6 separate regions of the Homo sapiens genome follow, and regions 1, 2, 4, 5 and 6 are each reported to be linked to region 3. The links are microRNA targets in miRTarBase. Many come from high-throughput screens and were not tested one by one. Region 3 holds a microRNA gene; each other region holds the end of a gene's coding sequence.

Region 1 (4,089 bases), not on the chromosome of region 3:
TACTGCACACAGCACTTCACTTCATTTCCTTTCCCTTTTGACAATAATCACCAGGAATCCTAGGGGTGACAAGATGCCATGGCTTCCTCAGATTAAAATTCTCAGTGTCATTAACAGAGGTGGCTTCACCTCCTTCTGCCAGCAGGGTTGTACAGATCCATTATGAGCAAACAGAGCAAGGGCCTGGAGAATGCGAGGCTTGGGAATACAGGACCCAGTTGTCACCTTCCATGTAAGTCTCAGTGTGACAGGTGACAAGGTGGGCAGCCTTGTAAGATGCTCCCCACCAATTCCCTCCCTGAGAATAGGCTGGAACTAGTGACTGGCACCTAACAGACAGAGTGCAACAGTGATGAAGTTATGAGAGACTGCGGCTTTTGTCTTGCTCTCGTTCTCTCCAGCTGTCCTTGCTTGTGACCTTTGATGGAGACAGCTGCCATGTCGTAGGCTGCCCTGAGGACTACTCCGTAGCATGATGAAGGGCAGAGGGCGATCTTTAGCCAATAGCCATAAGAAACCAAGATCCTTACTTAGCCTGACAGTCTGTGAGGAACTGACTCCTGCAACAACTATACGAGTGAGCAGGGAAGCAGGCCCTCCCCCAGTGAAGCCTGGAACACACCTTCACTGCAGCCTGCAGAGACATGGACTGCAGCCTGGAGAGACGCTCAGGACTCAGCTCAGCCATGCGCAGATTCCCGACCCACAGAAACTGTGATGAAATAGATGTGTGTTATTTTAAGTGGCTACGTTTTGAGGTAATTTGTTATGGCACATTAGAAAACTAATACACCTTGATAAATAATGTGCTTAAAGAGATAATAAATCACTACTGTTAAGTCTAAAAGGGCATTTGTAAATTATTTATATAGGATCAACTAAGCCAATGGAGGTTATATCAGCTTCAAAAAGGAAAACCAGAACTTCAAAATCTGGAGCCGCTGGGCGCAGTGGCTCACGCCTGTAATCCCAGCACTTTGGGAGGCTGAGGCAGGCGGATCATGAGGTCAAGAGTTCGAGACCAGCCTGACCAACATGGTGAAACCCCGTCTCTACTGAAAATACAAAAATTAGCCAGGCGGGGTGGTGCATGCCTGTAATCCCAGCTACTCAGGAGGCTGAGGCAGGAGAATCGCTTTAACCTGGGAGGCGGAGGTTGCAGTGAGCCAAGATTGCGCCACTGCACTCTAGCCTGGGCAACAGAGTGAGACGCTGTCTTGAAAAAAAAAAAAAAACACATACACAACAACCAAAAGACAACAACAACAAAAGTGAGCTCTTCCTAGGCACGGTGGCTCTTGTTTGTAATCCCCCCAGCACTTTGCGAGGCCATGGCAAGAAGATCACTTAAGCCCAGGAGTTCAAGACCAGCCTGAGCAACATAGGGAGACTCTGTCTCTACTAAAAATTTGAAAAGAAAAAAAAAACAAAACTGAGCTGTCTCATTTACATGAAATGTTCAAAATAAGCAAATCTATAGAGACAGAAAGTAGATTCGTGGTTGCCATGCCAGATGAGAAAGAATGACTGCTGACAGGCAGCGACTACTTTTTGGGGTGATAAAATGTCCTGGAATTAGATCATTGTGGTGGTTATGCAACCTTGTGAATGTACACTTTAAAATGGGACATTTTTATGGTTTCTGGATTTGATTTCAATTTAAAAAAAAAATTTAAGTGAGCTCTTATGGAGGGAAGCTAACACTTCCATTTAACATCTCCCCAAATAGTTATGTTCCATTCCCGCACCCAGGATGATAGACTTGCACTGCTCGAGGAGGACACATAAATGACGGTGTGACACTGGCCTGATGACGCAGCTCAGATCTCATTCCAGGTTTGTTTGGGGGTTTCTGCATTGCATCTTCCAGGAAAATTGCTAGCAAAAGTCCTCCCTCAGTAAATATGTTTGTCTTTTTCAATGTTTTTGTTGTTACAGATGTTAGATCCCTGTTCTTAAGACTTAAAGGACCGGGCATGGTGGCTCACCCCTGCAATCCCAGCACTTTGGGAGGCCGAGGCAGGTGAATCACCTGAGGTCAGGAGTTCCAGACCAGCCTGGCCAACATGGTGAAACCCCATCTCTACTAAAAATACAAAAATTAGCCAGGTGTGGTGGCACATGCCTGTAATCCTAGCTAGTTGGGAGGCTAAAGAATGAGAATTGCTTGAACCCGGGAGGCAGAGGTTGCAGTGAGCTGAGATCACGCCACTGCACTCTAGCCTAGGCGACAGAGTGAGACTCCGTCTCTAAATAAATAAATAAATAATAAATAAATTTTAAAAAAGACTTATGACAATTTTTACCTTATTTCATAATACTTAACTGGCCACTCCTTGCTATGAGCTACAAGGTAAGAAAACTTATCAAATGAAACATTTACAGAGGAAGACATCTTTTCAAAATCAATATTTCATTTCAGCATCTTGTTATTTATTTTTCATTATTTTAAAAAATTATCATTATTATTTTCTTTTCTTTTTTTTTTTTTTTTTTTTGAGATGGAGTTTCACTCTTGTCATCCAGGCTGGAGTGCAATGGCACGATCTCGGCTCACTGCAACCTCCGCCTCCCAGGTTCAAGCGAATTCTCTTACCTCAGCCTCCCTAGTAGCTAGGATTACAGGCATGCACCACCAAACCCAACACATTTTTGTATTTTTAGTAGAGATGAGGTTTCACCATGTTGGCCAGGCTGGTCTCAAACTCCTGACCTCAGGTGATCCACCCACCTCAGCCTCCCAAAGTGTTGGGATTACAGGCATGAGCCACTGTGACCAGCCTATTATTATTTTCAAGACAGGGTCTCACTCTGTTGCCCAGCCTGGAGTGCAGTGGTGTGATCATAGCTCACCGCAGCCTCAATCTCCTGGGCTGAAGTGATCCTTCTGTCTCAGCCTCCCCAACAGCTGGGAGTATAGCGGTGCAACACCACACCCAGCTTTGCTATTTATTTAAATGTCATTCTCCAACACATATGGGGAATGACATATGCTTCCCATTATTACATGGCAAAACATACTCCATATCCAGAAAAAATATTTATATGACATATGGCCTAGTATTCTAAATCAAGGCAGGATCTTCCAACAAGAGCAGGAGAGAGAAGAAAACATTTACATTCTATAACATGATTATAAGAATTGAGATAGATGAAATGAAAAACAACATCTTTGAACAATTACAGTTGACAGAACAGCTTTCCCTTATTCTACTTGCTTTAAATAACTCATATCTGTAAACTTGAACACCAACTCTGGCTGATTTAACAGTCTTAATCCCTTGATTTTCCATACTGAACATCACCCAATATATAGTGAAGATCAAAGGCGACTTCTTCCACCAAGCTCTGTGTCCAGCTGTGTTTCTGAGGTCATACGTGTCCCCTCACGGACACCAGATCAGATACTTCGGTAGTCAGAGCCGCGGGCTACAAAGGCGGCAGCTTCCCATTCCACAGTGAAGAAAGAAATTGTTCCAAAAAACCCAAATATCACCATGACCAGGAGTTGCCAGTGAAGGAGAAGGTAGTTGCTGTAGAAAAATGCCACGGCTGCGCAAATAGACTAAGAACAAACAAAACAAATCACAACGGGCGCACCGGGGGCCACACTGAGCCACAGTTAGCCCCTAGCCCCACTCCTATCCTGCCCCAAGGACACCTGGAACTCACAGTGCTTTCTATTCTTTCTGCATCAAGGTATGACTTCCTCAGTCACTGACTCACAAACATGCACCATAAACTCCTGCCACAGTTCCTGGTATTTAAAATAGCATTTTGGCCAGGTGTGGGGGTTCATGCCACCCAACACTTTGGGAGGCCAAGGTGGGAGAAATGCTTGAGCCCAGGAGTTCAAGACCAGCCTGCACAACATAGCAAGACCCCATCTCTACAAAATAAAATAAAATGAAACAAAAATAGCATTTTGTGGAAAACTGGAGTAACAAGAATGTACAGAGTAAGAAATACACTTGTCTGTATTACAAATGAATAGAATTCTGGTATCTAAGGAAGGAAATCTCTAATCAGAGCCATAGAGACCAGAACATAAAATCTGTTACACAAAAAATCTTACTGCTCATTGCTTCC
Region 2 (4,089 bases), not on the chromosome of region 3:
CAAAGTCATCTTCCTCCCAGTGTGGAGACTCTCTAAAGAGATGCTGATAGTGCACTGGGAGAAACCCAGATGTAAATGGATGTGTACATACATGCTGGAGTTTAAAAATATGAGCATGGGCTGGGCACAGTGGCTCACGCCTGTAATCCCAGCACTTTGGGAGGCTGAGGCAGGTGGATCACCCGAGGTCAGGAGTTCGAGACCAGCCTGGGCAAAATGGTGAAACCCTGTCTATTAAAAATACGAAAATTAGCCAGGCATGGTGGCACACACCTGTAGTCCCAGTTACTCAGGAGGCTGAGGCAGGAGAATCATTAGAACCTGGGAGGCAGAGGCTGCAGTGGGCTGAGATCGTGCCACTGCACTGCAGCCCGGGTGACAGAGCAAGACTCTGTCTCAAAATAAATAAATAAATAAATAAATAAATAAAATAAAAAATAAAAATATGAGCATGAACTCTTTGATGCTATTGCCTTCAAAAGGTACAGCTTAATTCCCCATCCCTTCAGTGTAGAATGGACTTAGTGACTCACTTCTAACAAATCAAATTCATTGGAAATGATCGTGTGCAACTTCAGAGACTGGGTCATGAAAGGCCTTGTGGCTTCCATCCTCTCTGGGATCACTCATTATGGAGAAAGCCAACTGCCATGTCAAGAGAACACCCAGGTAGCCTTGTAGAGAGGCTCATGTGATGATGAACTGAGGCCTTCGGGCAACAACCATGTTAGTGTGCCATCTTGGAAATGAATACTGCAGCCCCAGCATCAGCTAAGCCACACACAGATTCTTGATTCTCAGAAACTGAGTGAGCTAATAAGATGTGTGTTGTTTTAGTTTTGGGGGTAATTTGTTACACAGCATACATAACTACTACAGTGTGTGCTTATGGATGAAGTGAAGTTTCATCACTGTTTCTAGACCTTACACTGTTCAACTGGTGAAGATCCATCATCTTGCCCGAAGAGCTAGTGCCAGATTGCAATAAGATGATTTGATAAAATGGTTTCTCTCTTTTCCCTGCCCAGTTACTACCTCATGTCACATGGATGTCTGGGTTCTCCTTACCACTTAGCTTATTTGTCTAGAATATTTGGGATGCAGTTTGAGTGTAGTCTCAAGTGAGATAGAGTGCCACTAGAAGAAGGCTGACAGCCTGGCTATGCAGAAGCCCCAAAGAGTGAAGTTTGCAATAATCTGTCCGGGCTTTGGTTCTCTATCCTGAAGAATCAGAAACTATGTTTCATCAGAATATTTAGAAACTCATAGGCTAAACTGACAAACTTGGGGGCAGAACCACACACACAAAATTCACATGAGACTGACATATAAACCAGAGAATTTCTCTAAATTTACTATGTGCAGAATGAAATGTTGGTGCCCTCATGCAGAATTCTCCCTTTTCCTGAACAACAATAGCTTAAAAGGCCATATCAACAATCAGAAGATGGTTCAGTTAGGCTTGTAATTAGTGCCAAAAGAAGTGGCAAGTCTCAAGGTATGTTCTCCCTAAGCCACATACCTTGGGTCTTGATAAACTAGTCCTAACTGAAGTAGAGAACACTTTTGGTCACTGAATTACTCACATCTCTTGGATGCAGGACTTCCTTTTCACGGATAACACTGTATACACACTGTCATATTTTGTTTCTTCAAACCCCATTTTGGTGAGTTGATAATTTCGGTTTTCTTTTCTCAAATGAGTTAATATCATGTAATAACCTACAGTGTACCTGGGAAGCATTGAGACTCTCCTCACTATGTGTAGACTCTCTGGTGGTTTCTTCTTATCAAGTCCTTAGAAGGTATCTCACTGCTGCCCCACATAGTACCTGTGTAGTTTGGAGAGGCCATTTACTTAGCATATCAGAGCCTGTCCAAAGAGAATACATTAGAACCAGTAAAGAATTTCAAAGACTGTCTTGTAATTTCTCATTTCTTTTATCTAGAAAATTTCCATGATCAACAACATTCTGAACTGATCACCAGGGGGTTGAAAAATGAATAAATAGCAGTTAACAGAAATAGGGTATTTATGTTCTCCTTTTCAAAAGCTCAATGTTTCATCTGCTACAGTATAGTTTTCCAAGTTTAGTCATGAGTATTCTTACCAAAATCATTCCAATTTCGAATGATTACGCTAATTTGCACTGTCAGTTTCAGAAATTCAAAAATATATTTTTTTCTATTCACAATTAAAAATTAAATTTTGAGTCAGGAGTTTGAGACCAGCCTGGGCAACACAGCGAGATCCTGTCTCCACAAAAAGTTAAAAAAAATAAAAAAGCTAGGCATGGTGGCTTATGCCTATAGTCCCAACTACTCAAGAGGCTGAGGCGGGAGGATCACTTGAGTTTGAGGAGGTCAAGTGATCCATGTGAGCAGACTGTGCCACTGCACTCCAGCCTAGGTAATAGAGTGAGATCCTTGTCTCTAAAATAAATAAATAAAAATTAAATTTTGAGAGAATATCTTAGTATTTTAGTATCTTAGTATTAGTCAATATCTACTAATTCAAAAGTTGAGAAGTATGTTCCAGTAAATTTATGCACTTGAATTATTTTAAAAATTTGGAATTATAAAATTCTCAACATTTTGCTCACTACATAGACAACAGAATAATAAAGCTCAATGATTAGTGATTAGCACTATGCTAAAATATTAATAATTTCATAAATTTGTATAATTTCAAAATTTCTTTTAGTTTCATTGTCCTCAGAAACCCAAGAATGCCACTAATTTGTATTCTACTGAAAACATCTTTCCCTGATTACTTTTGTTTTACCAAAAAGAAAAAATTGTACTTTTCTTAAAAACAAAGTGAAGTCTAAATTAATTCAATAGCTACTGAAATTCACCTGAAATTTTAAACAGCTACAAATCCACAAGAGGAAAAAGTAAACACATTAGCTTTAATACAACTAGTACATAATAAAAATTAAGAGAAAAGATTAATTCAAGGAGAAAAACTGATTAAAGTATGCTTACTAAAGGTCCTGTTATCAGCATTTTTATTCAGTTTAGTCTATGCTAGAATATAAATACATGACAGTATGTCTTTTCTTGTCAAGGGTAGCCTTTTACATAACTAAAATTTGTGGCTAGCAGTTTATATAACAAAAGAAAAGCTAAATCTGTAAATTATCAGAAAAGAACCAAGGATATAGGAAAATAATACATTTATATAAATTACAAAGGACAGTTACAATGAAACTCCATTAGTTTCCTCTCAACCCAATTTTACAAAATAAAGTGAACATGTATTATTCTGTGAGTTGTTAAGAGTACATAAACACTGTGGGCCCATTCAAAAGACAGTGGTCAAAGACAAAATGTTATCTTCATGTTATACACTGTTCTTAGTTCTTTACTGGAGTTGAGCTTCCTTTCATAGTCTTCTTTAGGTGGTGGTAATTTGGCAAGATTTTCATCAAGAAATCCAGCTGTAGTGTCTGGGGCTAAAAAGATAAGGTAATTAAGGCCGATTGGCAGAAAGCAAAGTCAAGAGTACCACACAGCAACCAGGCGTGGTGGGTCATGCCTGTAATCTCAGCACTTTGGGAGGCCCAGACAGGAGGATGATTTGAGCTCAGGAGTTCCAGAACAGCCTGAGCAACATAGGGAGATCTTGTCACTAAAAAAATTTAAAAATTAGCTGTGTGTGGTGGCACACCCCTGTAGTCATAGCTACTCAGGAGGCTGAGGTGGAAGCAGGGCGGCAGGGGTGCAGGTGGATTGTTTGAGCCCAGGAGGTTGAGGCTGCAGTGAGCCATGATTACACCACTGCACTCCAGCCTGGGTGACAGAGCCAGACCCTGTCTCAAAGAAAAAAAAAAAAAAGTTCCAGGTAGCAATGGTTATTAATAAGTTGTGGAATTACAGGTGCTTTTCATTGACTCATTTTTGCTTACATGCTTGTTTTTTTTTTTAATTTATAAGGAACATATACTAAGTTTGGTTACAAGAAAAAGCCAACAGATTTTATATATTTATATAAAAATATACAGAAATCAGTTTTAAAACTCGCTTTTGTAGATTTCACCCTGGCTTCTGAAAAGTTAAAAGTTCCGATTACAGAAGACCACATAA
Region 3 (4,089 bases):
AAAATCGAAGCACTTCCCAGTACAGACAAAAAGGAAAGCGCCCCCATTTTGAGTATCCCAGTATGAGCTCCTCGCGAGGATCTGCCATCACTGTGACTTTCTTGCCTACAAGAGGTTGGCCTCCAATCATCCAAGCACATGTTAAATGTCAGCAATAAACTTGCTTGCTATGGGGGAAGAGGAAAGTTACATATCAATTATAACACCAACAGCAAAAAGCATTCCTTTCTTTGTGCATACAGCCCCTTGGTCACAGCTGCTGTTTTTTTTTTTTTTTTTCTTTGAGAATGAGTCTTGCTCTGTCGCCCAGGCTGGAGTGCGGTGGCGCGATCTCGGCTCACTGCAAACTCCGCCTCCCGGGTTCACGCCATTCTCCTGCCTCAGCCTCCCAAGTAGCTGGGACTACAGGCGCCCGCCACCACGCCCGGCTCATTTTTTGTATTTTTAGTAGAGACGGGGTTTCACCGTGTTAGCCAGGATGGTCTCGATCTCCTGACCTCGTGATCCGCCTGCCTCGGCCTCCCAACGTGCTGGGATTACAGGTGTGAGCCGCCGCGCCCGGCGCAGGCGCACAGCCGCCCTCTGAACCTTCTCTTCCTTTCACCATCTAACCCAGATTCCCTTAGTTGTGTCAGGTGAGAGCCCAGGAGGCCCCCTTCCCTTCCCCAGGTTTTCCGGAGCCATTACAGCCAGACGCTGTAAGGGACCTGTACCCAAGACAGTTTCCGGCTGGGAATCGAAACCACAGGCTCTTTAGTTCCTGCAGAAGACCGAGCTCCACGGCATCCGTTGATATGGGCGTCACCGGTGACGCTCAAATGTCGCAGCACTTTCCACTTGGACATCAGAATAGTGCTCCACATTTGAGGCCCACAGGGTGAGCAGCTCCATCTGCAAGAGCCCCGGCCAAGAAATTTATATCACGAGGAAACGGCCATAGGCAGGGTCTAGGGCCATCCTGCTACCCGCCCCCTCACCCAATCAAAATGGTATCTTCTCCGCAGGTTGAGTCTTCTCAAGCGGTAACACTCAAAAGATGGCGGCACTTTCACCAGAGAGCAGAAAGTGCCCCCACAGTTTGAGTGCCACAGGCTGAGGGGATGCGGCAAGGCGGCGATCGCAAGTGGAAGCACTTACCCATCAGAAGAGGCTTTTAAGCAAGGAGGTGGAGAGTAGCCCTTGATGAGCTGTTGAAGGTCTACAAAGCACGAATTTAACGACCCTTTCTTAAAAAGTAAAAAACAAGGCTTTCCACGTATAGATATTCAAAGCACTCCCCCGCCCATAGCCTCCAGATGCAAGCCATGAGGACTGAGTACAATGCAAGTAGGAAGGAACACGTGTGAGGGACAGTGGGGCCTTCGTCCTTAAGACTGAAAAAAAATCACAGAAATAGAACAAAAGTACAGCCCGGCTGGGCGGAGTGGCTCAAGCCTGTAGTCCCAGCTACTCGGAAGGCTACGGTGGTAGGATTGCTCTTGAGCCCAGGAGTTCGAGACCAGCTTGGATAACATAGAAAACCCCATCTCTCCTAAAAAAAAAAAAAAAAAAGCAGAAAAACGCACATGGGAATGGTGGTGCGCGCCTGTGGTCCCAGCTACTGGAGGCTAAAAGGGTGAGTCCCAGGAGGTCGAGGCTGCAAGGCGCCATCATCCTACCTGTGCACTTCATCCTGGGCGACAGTGAGATCCTGACCCTAAAAAATAAAGTAAAATGAAAGAAAATAAAATAACATAGCAATACTCACAGAGGCCAATGATACGTCCACACCTCAGGTCTGCCAGAAAGAACAAGGTTCACTGCAGCTGCGTTCTTATATAGGGTGAGAGCCCACTCAACTTTGATAGGATTAAAGCCCACCCCTTCCCACCCTCTCATTCCCCCTGGTCTCCGCCCCAAGCCACCCTGCTCCCTTTGATCCTAGCTTGCCTTAGTCAGACACACCTTCATAAACTTTTTCAAACACTGATTCAAATAGAAATTAGGTGATCCCTATTACTAGTAACGCCAACATGTATTCGTTATAAATACATTGGAAAACACAGAGAAATAACCAGAAGAAAATCATTCCACCAGTCATCCACTCAACAAATATTTAAATATAGTATTTTGGCAGAGCGCAGTGGCTCACACCTGTAATCCCAGCACTTTGGGAGGCCGAGGCGGACGATCACTTGAGGCCGGGAGTTCGAGACTAGCCTGGGCAACATGGCGAAACCCCGTCTCTACCAAAAAAATACAAAAATTACCCACGCATGGTGGTGTGCACCTGTAATCTCAGCTGCTTGGGAGGCTGAGGCAAGAGAATTGCTTGAACCCGGGAGGCAGAGGTTGCAGTGAGCCAAGATTGTGCCACTGCATTCCAGCCTGGGGACAGAGTGAGACCGTGTCTCAAAAAATAAATAAATAGGCTGGGCACAGTGGCTCATGCCTATAATGCCAGAACTTCAGGAGGCCGAGGCAGGCAGATCACGAGGTCAAGCGATCGAGACCATCCTAGCCAACATGGTCTCTACTAAAAATACAAAAATTAGCTCGGCGTGGTGGTGGATACCTGTAGTCCCAGCTCCTCGGGAGGCTGAGGCAGGGGAATTGCTTGAACCCAGGAGGCAGAGGTTGCAGTGAGCCAAGATCGCCCCACTGCACTCCAGCCTGGGTGACAGAGTGAGACTCCATCTCAAAAATAATAATAATAAATTTTAAAAAAATAAAAAAGCTGGGTGCGGTGTGGCTCACACCTATAATCCCTGCTACTCAGGGGGCTGAGGTGGGAGAATCCTTTGAACCCTGGAGGTGGAGGTTGCGGTGAGCCGAGATCACACCACTGCACTCCATTCTGGGCGACAGAGTGAGACTTAGTCTCAAAAAAAAAAAGAGAGGGAGAAAAGAAAAAAACAGTGCGGCAGTGAACATTTTTGAGAGCAACTTTGATAAAAAAGCGGAAACATTTCTGATTTTATTTAATGAAACCACTAGAGTTCCTTTGACCTTGAGGCATAGAGAGGAACTCAAAAAGGTGGGTGTTGGAGAGGTGAGGAGGGGCTTGAAAATGGTAAGTGCTCAAAATAATGAATGACTCAAGGAAGGGGAAGACTTGGGGCCCCAGGAGGCCAGGGTTTCCTTCCCATTTGTAATCCTAGCCAGCTGCGGGAGTACGTGCTCAACCTTTCTGGTTAAACCTAGTTCCTTCATCAATGAAAATGTACAGCATTTGCTGCAAAGGATGGCGAGAGATAGAAATGAGACAGCAAATAGCATGTTTGGCGAGAATCGCTAGAACCCAGGAGGCAGAGGTTGCAGTGAGCTCACATCACGCCACTGCACTCCAGCCTGGGTGATAGAGCCAGACTCCATCTCAAAAAAAAAAAAATTCTTGCTTTGATCTTTGTCAAGGTTGCGGGAGGTCAGTGCTTATGTCCTTACAGCTCAGCCATCCAGATTCCTATCTAACCTACTCACTCCTCTCACACTGCACCTGGATTTTCTGCTATTTGTGAACCACCTGGATGATCTCTCGGGTATTTCCTAGAACTCGGCTTTTTCTCATCACCTCATTTTGTCTTTGCAAATTTCTCCTTTAAGGGCGGCTTTCTTCTCCTGCCCTTGGGCCAGCACAGCGAGTTCATTGCTGACTTTTTTTTTTTTTTTTTGAGACGGAGTCTCCCTCAGCCACCCGGGCTGGAGTGCAGTGGCTCGATCTCGGCTCACCACAACCTTCGCCTCCCAGGTTCAAGTGATTCTCCTGCCTCAGCCTCCCGAATAGCTGAAATTACAGGCATGTGCCACCACGCCGGCTAATTTTGTATTTTTAGTAGAGACGGGGTTTCTCCATGTTGGTCAGGCTGTTCTCAAACTCTCAAACTCAGGTGATCTGCCCGCCTCGGCCTCCCAAAGTGCTGGGAATACAGGCGTGAGCCACCGCACCCGGCCAACGTTTGTATTTTTGAATATAAAAAATGTTATTAGTGCAATTGAATTTAATCAACATTCAACAAAGAGTATAGTCAAAGACGATTTTTAAGTGCATTTGAAAGAGGACTGCAGGCAGTGGCTCAAGCCTGTAATCTCAGCAATTTGGAAAGCTGAGGT
Region 4 (4,086 bases), not on the chromosome of region 3:
AATTGTCTTTGTTTGGACCCCTGCCTGGGCCAGGCCCAGCCCTTGTGGACCGGAATCGATTATCCAGTGAGAGCAGCTGTAAGAGCTGGCTGAGCTCCATGACGATGGACAGTGAAGATGGCTACCAGACGTGTGTGTCTGAGGACTCCAGCAGGGGTGCCTTCAGTCGGCAGACGAGTACAGATGATGAGTGCTTTATCCCCAAGGAGGGGGATGATTTTCTGAGGAGGTCATCTTCAAGGAGGAACCGGAGCATCAGTAACACCAGCAGCGGATCCATGTCTCCCTTGTGGGAGGGCAACTTATCAAGCATGTTTGGGACCCTGCCCCGGAAGAGCAGAAAGGGAAGTGTCCGAAAGCAACTCTTGAAATTTATCCCTGGCCTTCATCGTGCTGTGGAAGAGGAAGAAAGTCGCTTTTGACGGATTGTGGTGTCCTTTCAAATTAGCTTATTTCACAAATATCTCTAGACTCACCCAGATCCCAGCTTGGTGGGAAAGTGCAGAAGAATTGCAAAACTGACATCCCATTTCACAGCAATAGTGACCTTTATTTAAATTGTTGTGTTATAGTTTATGCTTCTTAAATCATTTTTCAACCTAAACAGCCAATTTCTAAGCAGACAGGAAAACTAAATAATAAGTTAATTAATATAACAAAGATGCAGGTTCCTGCTCATTCCAGTAATGTCTTTGAAAGCAAAACTAATATTTATTTTCTAGATTATCCCTGTGAATAATTGAGAACTTTTTGGAGTCAAGTATGAATAAAGGTGTGGCAGAATATAATAATCTGGACTATTTTCTATAGGATAATTGCTGGGTTATAAAATCTTAGGTTTGCTTATGCCCAGTAGCTCCTGCGGAGGCTTAATAATAGGCAATTTTGAATTTGTTCAAACCTGTAATGGCTTGTAAACAAAGATGACCATCAGCTGTTTCTCACATCTATAGTGACAATAAAGCGGGAAGTATAAGATTTAATAGGAGGGGTTAAGGTTCATGAGAACCATGGAAAGATGTGGTCTGAGATGGGTGCTGCAAAGATCATAATAAAGTCATTTTTATAGACAGTCTAAACAAAATGGGTGGGGATGTCGTGTTTTTTGCCCAATTCAGCTTTTGTTCTGCCTGAACATTAATGGCAAGTCTAGAACTCTCCGAATCCTACAGCTTTGTAATTTTTTTTCTACAAATGTCTAACATCCAAAACTGAGGGTTGGGAAAAGGACTTCCCTCCTGTAGTTTTTTTCATATTACTTCTCACTTTATATCTTATATTCTAAATAGCTATCACCTCAGCAGTCTTTTGCCTATTGGTTATGTTAGTATCACATTACTTCTAGCCTTTCAATTACTCCATGTTTTATTTAATATCCATTGAAGTCTATGAATTCTCTGTTCTGGTGGCACAGCTATTCATAACCTATATTCTAGAGTAGACAATCTGGACTATGTAATAAATAGTCTGCTGATTTTAAGTTCTCTCTCTCTCTCTCTCTCTCTCTCTCTCTCTCTGTGCGTGTGTGTGTGTGTTTGGGAGAAATAGAAACACTTCAATTTAAGTAGAGCTGCTAAATTTAATTAAACTTCTGCTTAAGAAATGAGTTATTTTGAGATAAAAGAGGGTAGGGTAAGGAAGCATCTAAGATGAGAAAGAAATGATAAAGTATGAAAAGATTTCTAGTTGGGACTTGCCTTCTATTAACTCTTTGAACTGAGAAACATCCAGTGGCCTGTGCATGACAGTCACTCATATGAAAGGCAGGGTGTCACACCTTTCACAGAAATGATAGCAATACTGTCTACCATTTACTGAGTACCTAGTTGGCTAAAGACACTTTACGTATGATCCTCACAATTACTATATAGTAGGTGTTAGGCATACAGATAACAAGTCAGGAATTTGGAAATGTTCTCAGGGTCACAAGGCTAGTCAGTGGCAGGGCTAAAATTGGAAGCCAGTTCTTCCTTGCTCTAGTCTATTCCAGATATCTTTTACTCTTTTGGTTCTGTTTAGTGATCATCACAGTACTTTTTATTCCACCCAACAGGAATACTTAAAATGTACAATTATAGATGCTGCACAGATAAGAGCATTTCTTTGGGTAAATAGGAAAACAAACATTTCTCTGTTCCTCATATACAAGTTTCAGACATAGGTTCTTTAATAACTACATGATTAGCAGTGCATTTATTTTCAACAAGAGCTTGCAAACCAGTTATGATTCAACTGGTATTGCTTATTTCTCATCATAGTCTAGAATCATCCTGTTAAAGGTCTACTTATATGAATTCAGCATTTCTTGTTATCCTATTTCACAAAGTCCAGGGGAAGGAAACACCACATTTATTTGAGGAAAGATGACTTTGAAATCTTCTACAAGGTGAAAAAATGCTTTGAGAACTACACAGAATGACATAGGTCATACGGGAAAGCAGACCATAGATCATTTGCTTTTCTTGTGATTTTAATACAGAAGTGTAACACTGCTGTATGACAGTAGACCTCAAATGCAAAAAAGGGGCAGGGAAGGGACGGAGCAAGCATCACTTTAGTTTGCGGTAAGAATTAGAGTCGAGGTATGTTCTGAGAATAAAGAAAAAAGTACTGGTTAACCAAAGTACAGGAAGGAAGGGTATGTCATGTTCTATATTTCACAAGCTGTAAGAAAATTAGCTTTTGTTTAGTAGAAATGTGGGTAAATTTCTCACAGTATAACTTTCAGACTAATTTATGACTTCAGTCAGGCTTTAGAAGAAACTTCTGGTGCATAGTGATTCATTCTGATATAATTTACTAGGGAAAAAATTGAAAAGTGTTTTTTTAACTTGAAAGTTCTCAAATATGTATTACTGGTGAATTCCATTAATTGACAACCTGTTATGAAAATGCATTTTTCTAGAAGGGCATTTGATAAACCAAATTTGAATCAAGTAGATTGGGAATTACTTTATCATGTGGCTGAAGAACACAACCATGACAAACAGATTAGTAATATATTTTTGGAAGTGAACTTTTATTTATGACTTTCTACCTTGTAATAATTTTATATCTTAAGATACAGATAGCATTTAAAATCCCAGTTTGCGCTGAATAGATCAAACTTGGAAATAGTATGTGTGTCTTGATCACCAAAGTACAGACATTTTTGAATGTATACATACTAAAAATAGTAAGTAATACATAACTATATTGAGCCCCTCAGATCATAAAAGTATTGTTATTTTATATCCATTTCCTTACATACCTATGGGCTACAAAATCAAAATTTGATGCCTTTATGAAATAAAGAATGCTATTTTTCAGTGTCAGGACTTTCTCTCTCTTTCTCTGTCTCTCTCTCTCTCCCTACATTTCTCTCTACCATAAAGAAATAATTGTCTTAAAAGCAGACTTTTTAAAAAACCTGGGTGATTCTCAACATTTACTTCTTTGAGGACCTTAAAAGACACTACTTACTTAATTGAGACTTTGCACTATTAGCTTTTTTATTGCTATTTAACAAATTACTGCCAGGCATGGTGGTTCACACCTGTAATCCCAGCACTTTGGGAGGCCGAGGTGGGTGGATCACCTGAGGTCAGGAGTTTGAGACCAGCCTGACCAAGATGATGAAACCCCGTCTATACTAAAAATACAAAAATTAGCCGGGTGTAGTGGTGCATGCCTGTAATCCCAGCTACTCCGTAGGCTGAGGCAGGAGAATCGCTTGAATCCGGGAGGTGGAGATTGCAGTGAGCCGAGATCACACCATTGCCCTCCAGCCTGGGCAAGAAAAGTGAAACTCCATCTCAAAAAATAATAATAATAATAAAATAAAAATAAATAAATAATAACCACAAACTTAGAAGCCTAAAATATATTTATTATCTCAAAGCTTCTGTGGGCCAGGAGTCTGGGCACAGGTTAGCTGGATCTGCTCAGGATCTCACAAACCTGCAATTTACTGCAATTTTGGTGTTGTTATCTGGAGGCTTGATTGGAGAAGGATCAACCTTTAAGCTCCTTCAGGTTGCTGTCAGAATCATTACCTGGTGGCCATACAATTCATGGCAGCTTGATTCTTAAAGGCTGGTAATGAAG
Region 5 (4,089 bases), not on the chromosome of region 3:
CCCGTACCTGGAGCCGCTGGGCGCGCCGCAGGCCCCGGCGCCCGCCACGGCCACGGACACCTTCGAGGCGGCTCCGCCCGCGCCCGCCCCCGCGCCCGCCTCCTCCGGGCAGCACCACGACTTCCTCTCCGACCTCTTCTCCGACGACTACGGGGGCAAGAACTGCAAGAAGCCGGCCGAGTACGGCTACGTGAGCCTGGGGCGCCTGGGGGCCGCCAAGGGCGCGCTGCACCCCGGCTGCTTCGCGCCCCTGCACCCACCGCCCCCGCCGCCGCCGCCGCCCGCCGAGCTCAAGGCGGAGCCGGGCTTCGAGCCCGCGGACTGCAAGCGGAAGGAGGAGGCCGGGGCGCCGGGCGGCGGCGCAGGCATGGCGGCGGGCTTCCCGTACGCGCTGCGCGCTTACCTCGGCTACCAGGCGGTGCCGAGCGGCAGCAGCGGGAGCCTCTCCACGTCCTCCTCGTCCAGCCCGCCCGGCACGCCGAGCCCCGCTGACGCCAAGGCGCCCCCGACCGCCTGCTACGCGGGGGCCGCGCCGGCGCCCTCGCAGGTCAAGAGCAAGGCCAAGAAGACCGTGGACAAGCACAGCGACGAGTACAAGATCCGGCGCGAGCGCAACAACATCGCCGTGCGCAAGAGCCGCGACAAGGCCAAGATGCGCAACCTGGAGACGCAGCACAAGGTCCTGGAGCTCACGGCCGAGAACGAGCGGCTGCAGAAGAAGGTGGAGCAGCTGTCGCGCGAGCTCAGCACCCTGCGGAACTTGTTCAAGCAGCTGCCCGAGCCCCTGCTCGCCTCCTCCGGCCACTGCTAGCGCGGCCCCCGCGCGCGTCCCCCTGCCGGCCGGGGCTGAGACTCCGGGGAGCGCCCGCGCCCGCGCCCTCGCCCCCGCCCCCGGCGGCGCCGGCAAAACTTTGGCACTGGGGCACTTGGCAGCGCGGGGAGCCCGTCGGTAATTTTAATATTTTATTATATATATATATCTATATTTTTGTCCAAACCAACCGCACATGCAGATGGGGCTCCCGCCCGTGGTGTTATTTAAAGAAGAAACGTCTATGTGTACAGATGAATGATAAACTCTCTGCTTCTCCCTCTGCCCCTCTCCAGGCGCCGGCGGGCGGGCCGGTTTCGAAGTTGATGCAATCGGTTTAAACATGGCTGAACGCGTGTGTACACGGGACTGACGCAACCCACGTGTAACTGTCAGCCGGGCCCTGAGTAATCGCTTAAAGATGTTCCTACGGGCTTGTTGCTGTTGATGTTTTGTTTTGTTTTGTTTTTTGGTCTTTTTTTGTATTATAAAAAATAATCTATTTCTATGAGAAAAGAGGCGTCTGTATATTTTGGGAATCTTTTCCGTTTCAAGCATTAAGAACACTTTTAATAAACTTTTTTTTGAGAATGGTTACAAAGCCTTTTGGGGGCAGTAATTGGCTTTTGTTTTTTATTTTTTTACTTTATTTTGGATTTGTAGGATTTTGTTTTTGCGTTTCTGGTGTGTAGGGGGTTGTGTGTGGGGGGCTGCTGTTATTTTTGGAGGTTTTGGTGGTTGGGTGGGGGTGTTGCAGCTGGTTTTTCTGCCTCCTCTGCTACTCCCCCTCCCACACACACAGGGTCTGCTTGAGATGGGGTTCCAGCCCCGGGGGAAAGGGGAGAAGAGTAATGGGTCAGGCATTCAGGCTGACTCAGAGCCCCTAGGCGCCGGGACGGGTGGCTGGGAACCCTGCTTGAGAAGAGATTCCGGAGCCTCTGGCTGGTCCCGAGTGTCAGGCTTGGGTTTGGAAGGGCTGGGAGGTCTGTGACCCCTGCCCTGTGTTTGGGGACTAGGTAGGCAGGCCTGTGACTGTAGGAGGAGGGGGTTCAGGTCTTGGTCCTGCTGAGCCCGAGTCAGGGCAGATGCTTTTGGTCAGTGTAGTGGGGTGGGTTGTTTAAAACACAGTTTGTGTATACATGTGTATTTTAAAGAGGGGAGCCTGGGTGTGTGGGCGAGTCTGTGTTTGTGTGTCCCTGGCCAGCAGGAGGGGAGAGGCCAGGCCAGGTGGAGAGAGGTGGGGGAGGGGTTCCCACACTTTGATTACCTTTCCTGAGGATGGGAGGCTCATCACTTGCTCTCTTTGCCCAGACTTGGACACTGAGCCCACCTCACCTGCCTGCTCAAGGTGGCTGAGCCCAGGCACAAACGTGGGGCTGCTAGCCCTGATTCCCTGGGACAGGCTCCTCTTCCCTGCCCACTGATCCCTTTGCCCCTTCCGGCTTCTCACCGCACCCCCTACTCCCATCCAGCCCTGGATGGCATTCCTGAGAGTTGAGGATGTAGATGGATGTGAGTGGATACATGTACAGCGTCCCACAGTGCCTGGCACGCAAGAAGTGTTATATAAGCGCTTGCTCTTGTTATTATTTTTTGCTGGGAAGCTGCTGGCATTTGGCACCCCAGTCTCCAGTGCAGCGCCAGTGTGGCCAGTACTTGCCAGGGGCCGGCATCTGGTAAACACTGGACCTGCCCCATCCCATTTAGACCTCACAATAACCTTTGGGAAGGTGGGGATTGTTATGACGCCTGTTTTTAGAGGTGGGGAGCAGCTTTGGGCTGTCCGATCCCTATGGGCAAGACACTGGTTGGGGGTTGCCCTGCCCTGAGGAATTCAGGGGCAGCAGGCATCGTAGCCTGGTTTGCCAAGGACCTGGGGCGGTCTGGGATCTCAGGAGCAGTTGCTGATACCGTGGTTCGCGAATGGGAAATGCTTTGCCCCTCCTTTTCCTTTTGGGGGCCTGGTTGTGCTTTCCCTGTGGGAGCCTGGGATGTGGGGAACAGACAGCGACACTCATCCCCCACCGCCACAAAGCGGAGGATTCCTATAAGCTCCACCTCCCTAATGCCAGTGTCTCCTGATGGTGGCTCGAGGGCTATGCAGATTGCTGGACACAGATAACCTCACTTCAACCTGGGACCTGCAGCGTGGCCCTGACCACGTCCCCTCCCAGCCCTGGGCAACTGGACAACTGGCCGGGCATGCCTTCAAAGCCTCGAAGTCAGTTCAGTCCCAAGCCCCACTGGTCTCGATGGTTTCTGTCAGTAGCAGCGACAGCAATGTGGGCTTGACCTCAAGGATTTACTTGCTGAAGGCAGAGGCTGAGGGGCTGGACCTAGGGAAGGAGGGAGGTGGAGAGGGTCGAAATTGAGGAACAAATCTCAAATCCCTGCTCCCTCCTTTGTCACCAAGAGTTGGCTGGTGGCCACTGCTCACCCAAATGAGGTGAGAGGGAAGCAGCCTGGCCAGACGGTGCCCCTCTTCCGCCCCCGTCTGCCCCACAGCTTCGCTTCTGTTTCCCCAGTGCTGTCCTGGAACCAGCGTTGAGTCAGTTCTTCACACACTCACATCTTGCTCTCATCCACAGTACCCCACAGAAGGTGCTAGACCCATTTCTAAAAGCACACATTGAGGTCCACAGAAGTGAGGTTTGTGCTCAAGGTGGGCTAGGTGGAGCAGGTTACAAAACCATCCGACTCCCAAGTCTATGGGGAAAGTTTGGGGCTGGGAGCCTGGTTTGTAATCCCAGTTCCTGTTTAAAATCCCAGGCTCTTCTTGGAGGGCTCCTTGCCTGACCTCAAGTTCAGGCACTCCAAGCCCCAGAACTGCAAACATCAGTTTCACAGTTTGGAAGCAACAGAAAGTGAATTTGAACCTGAACCCCTTGGGCTGCCTCTAAGGAGGGCTGGGAGAAGCAGTTCACAGGTTGAGGGCTTTGACGGTGGCTTGGTATGGGAGCACTGTGGACGGAGCTGTGCCCAAAGGACTTGGGGAGATGTCATAGTTAGGGCAACACCAACCCCACAGTTCACCAAGCTGCAAGGGTGAAGGGCTCGCAGGGAGGAACCAGTCCATTCCGACATCCAGAAACAGGAGGGGGTGGGATGGGGTGAGGCGAGCCCAGGAGGCCAGGGACGAGCCTTGAGGAATCATGATAATAGCAGGTGTGAGACAAGGGCTTAGATGTGCAAAGCACCACTCCAAGCCCTTGGCACAGAGGGAGGTGCTGGGTCCTTAGATATGTGGGAGAAAGCCGGTCATGTTAACCACAGACCCA
Region 6 (4,089 bases), not on the chromosome of region 3:
GTAGTCAACCATCCAAAAGTAAGAAGGCATTTCCCCCTCTAATAACTTTCTCTGCAGTTATCAGTCAGTTAAAAGAGCCCATGTAGTTTTAGAATTAGAGATATAGGGTGGAAAAGATAAAATACTAATTTGAGGTGTGCGTGTGTAGTGTCAGGCTCCGTACTTGAGAGCCAAAGGTTTAAGAGTCTTGATTTTATGCCAGGGATGCCTTCACTGAAACTCACCCAAATAGCAGAAGACTGTTTTCATCAATTTACTAATATCAATGTTATCTAGCACCACATGTTTTCTTTGTCCTATTGATTTATCATGCGATATTGCTTTGATGTGTTCTGTTGTTACTTTGCGCCTTTGGGGTTCCACATGCCTTCGTGGGAATCTCGGGGTGCAAGTAACACTGTATAAACGAAAATACTTTGAAAATTGCAGTGTAAACAAAACTAGCTCAGATGTTTGACACTTTGTTTGAAGTCTTTATTTCTCTTGTTTTCTCTCAATAGGAATATACAGATGTTGCCACAGGAATCTAATCTGAAATCGTACAAATGGAAATGACGCTACAGGAGGATGTTTGGGAGCATCTCTCTCTTTTTGTCAGGAGTTAGAAGTGACACTAAGGCACTAATACTGTAACTTCTTGATAAAATAACTTTATTTTTTAGTAGTGGAATGCTGCAACTTTTTTACACCTAACAATTGCTTTTAAATTACAGTATTCAATTTAAAAGTTGTATTAACTACAGTTTCCTTTGCAAAAAGTCTCAAAAGAATCACTTGAAGGGCATTATTTGTTGATGCATTTTTCTCTGAGCATGGTTTCATAGAGAGAACTTCACCAAGTAATATTCAGACGTTTATATGTTGAAAGTTTTGCTTACATAATAAAAACAAAAACAAGTGTCTGAATTGTATAGTGTCTTTACATGAAAGAACTTTAAACAGTGGCCTTATGGTAGAAAATTTTATACCAGATTTTTCTTTTTCTGATGACATTTTGGCTTATAACTCGAAGTTTTCTTAAGTTTCTGAAGATCAAGGCCTATATAATTCATACATTTCATATTATAAGAAGGCAAGAGACAAGGTGCTTCAAATATTCCATCAGGTAGTTGTGAGTGCACTGAATTTTTAGTAATATGTTCATTCAGTTTTTTTCCACAACTATTTGCTCTTTTCCAATTTCAAAATGCTATTGTGGAAAATATGTAAAGATTTTGTAATCTATAGTCCATCTTATTTTTCCCTCAGGGCAAGCTTGTGCATATCATATTTTTAAAGGCTTTTTAAAAATCTGACAAACAAAATCTCATATTTGAAAATTGTACTTTACTACTACAGCATTACACATTTTGCAAGCACATCTTATAGAGTGTTTACTTTTAGTTCAGTTGATATGTATTGCATACCTACTATGTGTAAGAGCAAATGGATGGGATTTTTAAATGAAATTTTTAGGCCCCAATACCTTATTTCTTTATGTTTTCTGTGTTCTGCTTAACAGTACATATACATTCCCAATTACATTTTTGTGAAATGTTTATTTGTAATAAAATAAAATGTTGTTGCTCTTTCTGCTTAAATAAGTTACTTGCCAGTTTGTGAGAGCATTATTTTAATTTTGTTTGAGACTTATAGCCTTGGATAGCACCTCTGTTTAAACAGTGTTTAAAGCACTGTTCTGTGCTTACAAAGACAGAGCTTTCAAAATTAAAATGTGAAGGTTGATAAGAACTTGGTTTTTCATGACTGGATGTGAAAAATCTTAGTACATTCAGTTTTCTTGTCCATATCTTTAAAAGAGAGGGCAGCCTTTTCCTTAAGTGAGTTCATGATAAGGGGGGCAAGTGCACTTGATTCATTGCTAAGCAGGTAATAAATTTGGGTAGATGGCCTGTCTTGTACTGTGTACAATCTCTATAGGTCAGGTTTTCCAAACATATTTAGCATTCCACTTATGGTAAGAAAGAAATGCATGCACACAGGTAGTATGGCAACTTTATATTGTGTTAGGTACTTATAAAATCTGTCTTAAATTTTAAAATAATTGATTTCATTTACTCCCATATTCTAGGGGACAGTAATGAGCTTTGAATATTTAATCATTTGATTGACAACTATGTATTGCACAGATACTGTACTAAAATTACAGCAATGAACAAGAAGACAAGACACATGGACCCTGCCTTTATGGTACGAAGAGTCTAATAGGAAAAATGGACATTAAACAGAAATATAACTTGGTAAATCGCCTTTATAGCTCGCTTTTTATTTATTGTAACACATAAAGGTAAGATGGCTGATTTACTATTATTCATTCCACAACTGATTCCCTATTTGGATATTCTTTTGGCACTGTCTCAATATGCAAAGCGTGTTATCTGCAAAATACCTGTGCAGAAAACATTGTGTGTATAAGATCTAAAGCCTAAAAGGAAAAACCAACTTTATAATTTAGAGTATAAAATAAGGACAGGGACCGTGTCTGTCTTGTCCACCATAGTATCCCCAGCACCCAGCTTCCTATTTGACGTGTGGTAAGAGTTCATTAAATATTAGTTGAATAATGAATGAATAAATAGGGAATAATAGAATATGTTTATTAGGAACTACATGTGTAATTTTCATATGGAGATTGAACAAAAGGTTATCCATAGCATTTTTTATTGACTGGAAAGAATTTGACTTCTTGAATGCATAAGACTTGAGAAGAGAAGTTTTTTTTTTTTTTCTTTTTTTTGATAAGTCCCCTACCATTGCCTCCTCACCTTCCTCCACTACGTGCTAGGCCCTTCGCTGGTACTGGGAAGACAAAGATAATAAGACACAGTCCCTGCTGTGAGGAAGCTCATGCACTGCTGAAGAAGAGATTCACAAAAACAAAGAATCACAATGTAGAGTAAGTACTTTAGTGGACATATATACAAAAGGTTGAGAGGAAAGTTGACATTTCTGATTCAGCATCCCCTCGTCATGTTTCTTTCCTATTGGTTTCACCAACCTCAGAAGGCACTATTCTGTTGGTGGTTTTACTGGTTTTAAAAATTGATGCATTGGGGGAAACTGGGTAAATTGTACGCGGGATCTCTCTGTATTATTTCTTTTATAGCTGCATGTGAATCTAGAGTTACTTCAACATAAATTTCAATTTGAAGAATTGCCCATAGTCTTATCACAGAGAACACTATTATAAATATTTTAGATGATACATTTTCATTTTTTTCTATTGGAAAAAAACTCGCTACATTTATGTGTAACAATTTATGTAGATGTATACTATGTACCACATTTTACCTAATAAATCCTACATTTTTGAATAGTTTTTTTTTTAAAAAAAAGACGGGGATACTTCCAGGCAGAAGCAAGAAAAGTAAAGCTGGATGAGAAACTCTTATTGTCTTTATTACCCAGCAAATTCAGTAACCACCAGGCACAAATTCACCAGGAACAACCAAGCAAGGAAGGAAGAAGAAGCTGATGCAACAAGGTGTGGTATGACTTCATCCCTCGCCCATCCCCAGAAGTAGCACTGAGTAAAACAATGGAGATGACAAAAATATTGGTAACAGTGGGCCCCAGTATGGACAAAGGCACTGACGAGGTGACCAGGCCACGTGGAGGAGAGTCAAGGAAAACTCTTGGGACAACGAAGTCTTTGCTTCCATCTCAGGACCTCAGCAGAAGGGGTAAGATTCACCAGGACTAGGCATTTCCCAGGTCTCAGAGCAGCCTGGGAAAGCCAAATCCTGCAGAAGTCAGAGACACCTTTGACTGTGTCTAGTGAGTTCTGGTTCTGGACATTTAATGGGAACCTAGAAGAGAGGGGATACCAGGTTCCCCAACAAAGTTCCGTCAAATAGGATGATTATGAGCTCTGAGTCCATTAAAATACAGAATGAACATTTAAGAACTGAGGAATCATAGATGTAGAATAGTATGTAAATGTTATAAATCTTGACAAAGAAAAATTAATGTACATTGACAAATTCAGACATGGAGGAGGTAAAGTGGGATAAAGACTTAAGAACTAACCGTCTCATCATTCATGGCCAGGTGTCATGTCACGTCATGTCTTAAAATTATAATATGGGG

The links. Region 3 holds the annotated microRNA hsa-miR-371a-5p (ACUCAAACUGUGGGGGCACU, at 1,065-1,084, opposite strand). A microRNA usually pairs through its seed, bases 2 to 8, with sites in the 3' UTR of a target mRNA and lowers its output. Matches are read on the target gene's strand: a 7mer-m8 pairs with bases 2 to 8, a 7mer-A1 pairs with bases 2 to 7 and ends in A, and an 8mer does both.
Region 1: miRTarBase lists MFSD11 as a target of hsa-miR-371a-5p. Seed matches in the 3' UTR shown: 8mer at 2,699-2,706.
Region 2: the mRNA of DCTN6 is a reported target of hsa-miR-371a-5p. The part of its 3' UTR that is shown has no 7-base or 8-base seed match.
Region 4: miRTarBase lists CYTIP as a target of hsa-miR-371a-5p. The part of its 3' UTR that is shown has no 7-base or 8-base seed match.
Region 5: miRTarBase lists CEBPB as a target of hsa-miR-371a-5p. Seed matches in the 3' UTR shown: 7mer-A1 at 1,395-1,401.
Region 6: the mRNA of BCLAF3 is a reported target of hsa-miR-371a-5p. Seed matches in the 3' UTR shown: 8mer at 1,621-1,628.

What each region holds. Positions count from the first base shown.
Region 1 is chr17:76,777,664-76,781,752 of GRCh38, reverse strand. It overlaps MFSD11 (major facilitator superfamily domain containing 11), which reads right to left. Exons shown (of 13, transcript NM_001242532.5): 13 at 2,412-3,565. The coding sequence ends at 3,401. Among named protein-coding and RNA genes, the nearest start is that of LINC02080, 19 kb to the left of the region's middle.
Region 2 is chr8:30,182,444-30,186,532 of GRCh38, reverse strand. It overlaps DCTN6 (dynactin subunit 6), which reads right to left. Exons shown (of 7, transcript NM_006571.4): 7 at 2,894-3,458. The coding sequence ends at 3,360. Among named protein-coding and RNA genes, the nearest start is that of DCTN6-DT, 28 kb to the right of the region's middle.
Region 3 is chr19:53,784,675-53,788,763 of GRCh38, reverse strand. MIR371A (microRNA 371a) reads right to left here and starts at 1,089; the gene lies at 1,023-1,089. It overlaps MIR371B (microRNA 371b), which reads left to right and starts at 1,022; the gene lies at 1,022-1,087. MIR372 (microRNA 372) reads right to left here and starts at 874; the gene lies at 808-874. It overlaps LOC124904767 (a long non-coding RNA gene), which reads left to right and starts at 539. Exons shown (of 2, transcript XR_007067336.1): 1 at 539-877; 2 at 1,005-1,742. It also overlaps MIR373.
Region 4 is chr2:157,412,013-157,416,098 of GRCh38, reverse strand. It overlaps CYTIP (cytohesin 1 interacting protein), which reads left to right. Exons shown (of 8, transcript NM_004288.5): 8 at 1-1,480. The coding sequence ends at 422. Among named protein-coding and RNA genes, the nearest start is that of CYTIP, 30 kb to the left of the region's middle. RefSeq lists an enhancer at 2,348-2,397.
Region 5 is chr20:50,191,261-50,195,349 of GRCh38, forward strand. It overlaps CEBPB (CCAAT enhancer binding protein beta), which reads left to right. Exons shown (of 1, transcript NM_005194.4): 1 at 1-1,408. The coding sequence ends at 811. It overlaps CEBPB-AS1 (CEBPB antisense RNA 1), which reads right to left and starts at 809. Exons shown (of 7, transcript NR_125739.1): 1 at 404-809; 2 at 8-162. RefSeq lists silencers at 1-382, 803-912 and an enhancer at 2,277-2,838.
Region 6 is chrX:19,913,746-19,917,834 of GRCh38, reverse strand. It overlaps BCLAF3 (BCLAF1 and THRAP3 family member 3), which reads left to right. Exons shown (of 12, transcript NM_001367774.2): 12 at 501-4,089. The coding sequence ends at 530. Among named protein-coding and RNA genes, the nearest start is that of SH3KBP1, 28 kb to the right of the region's middle.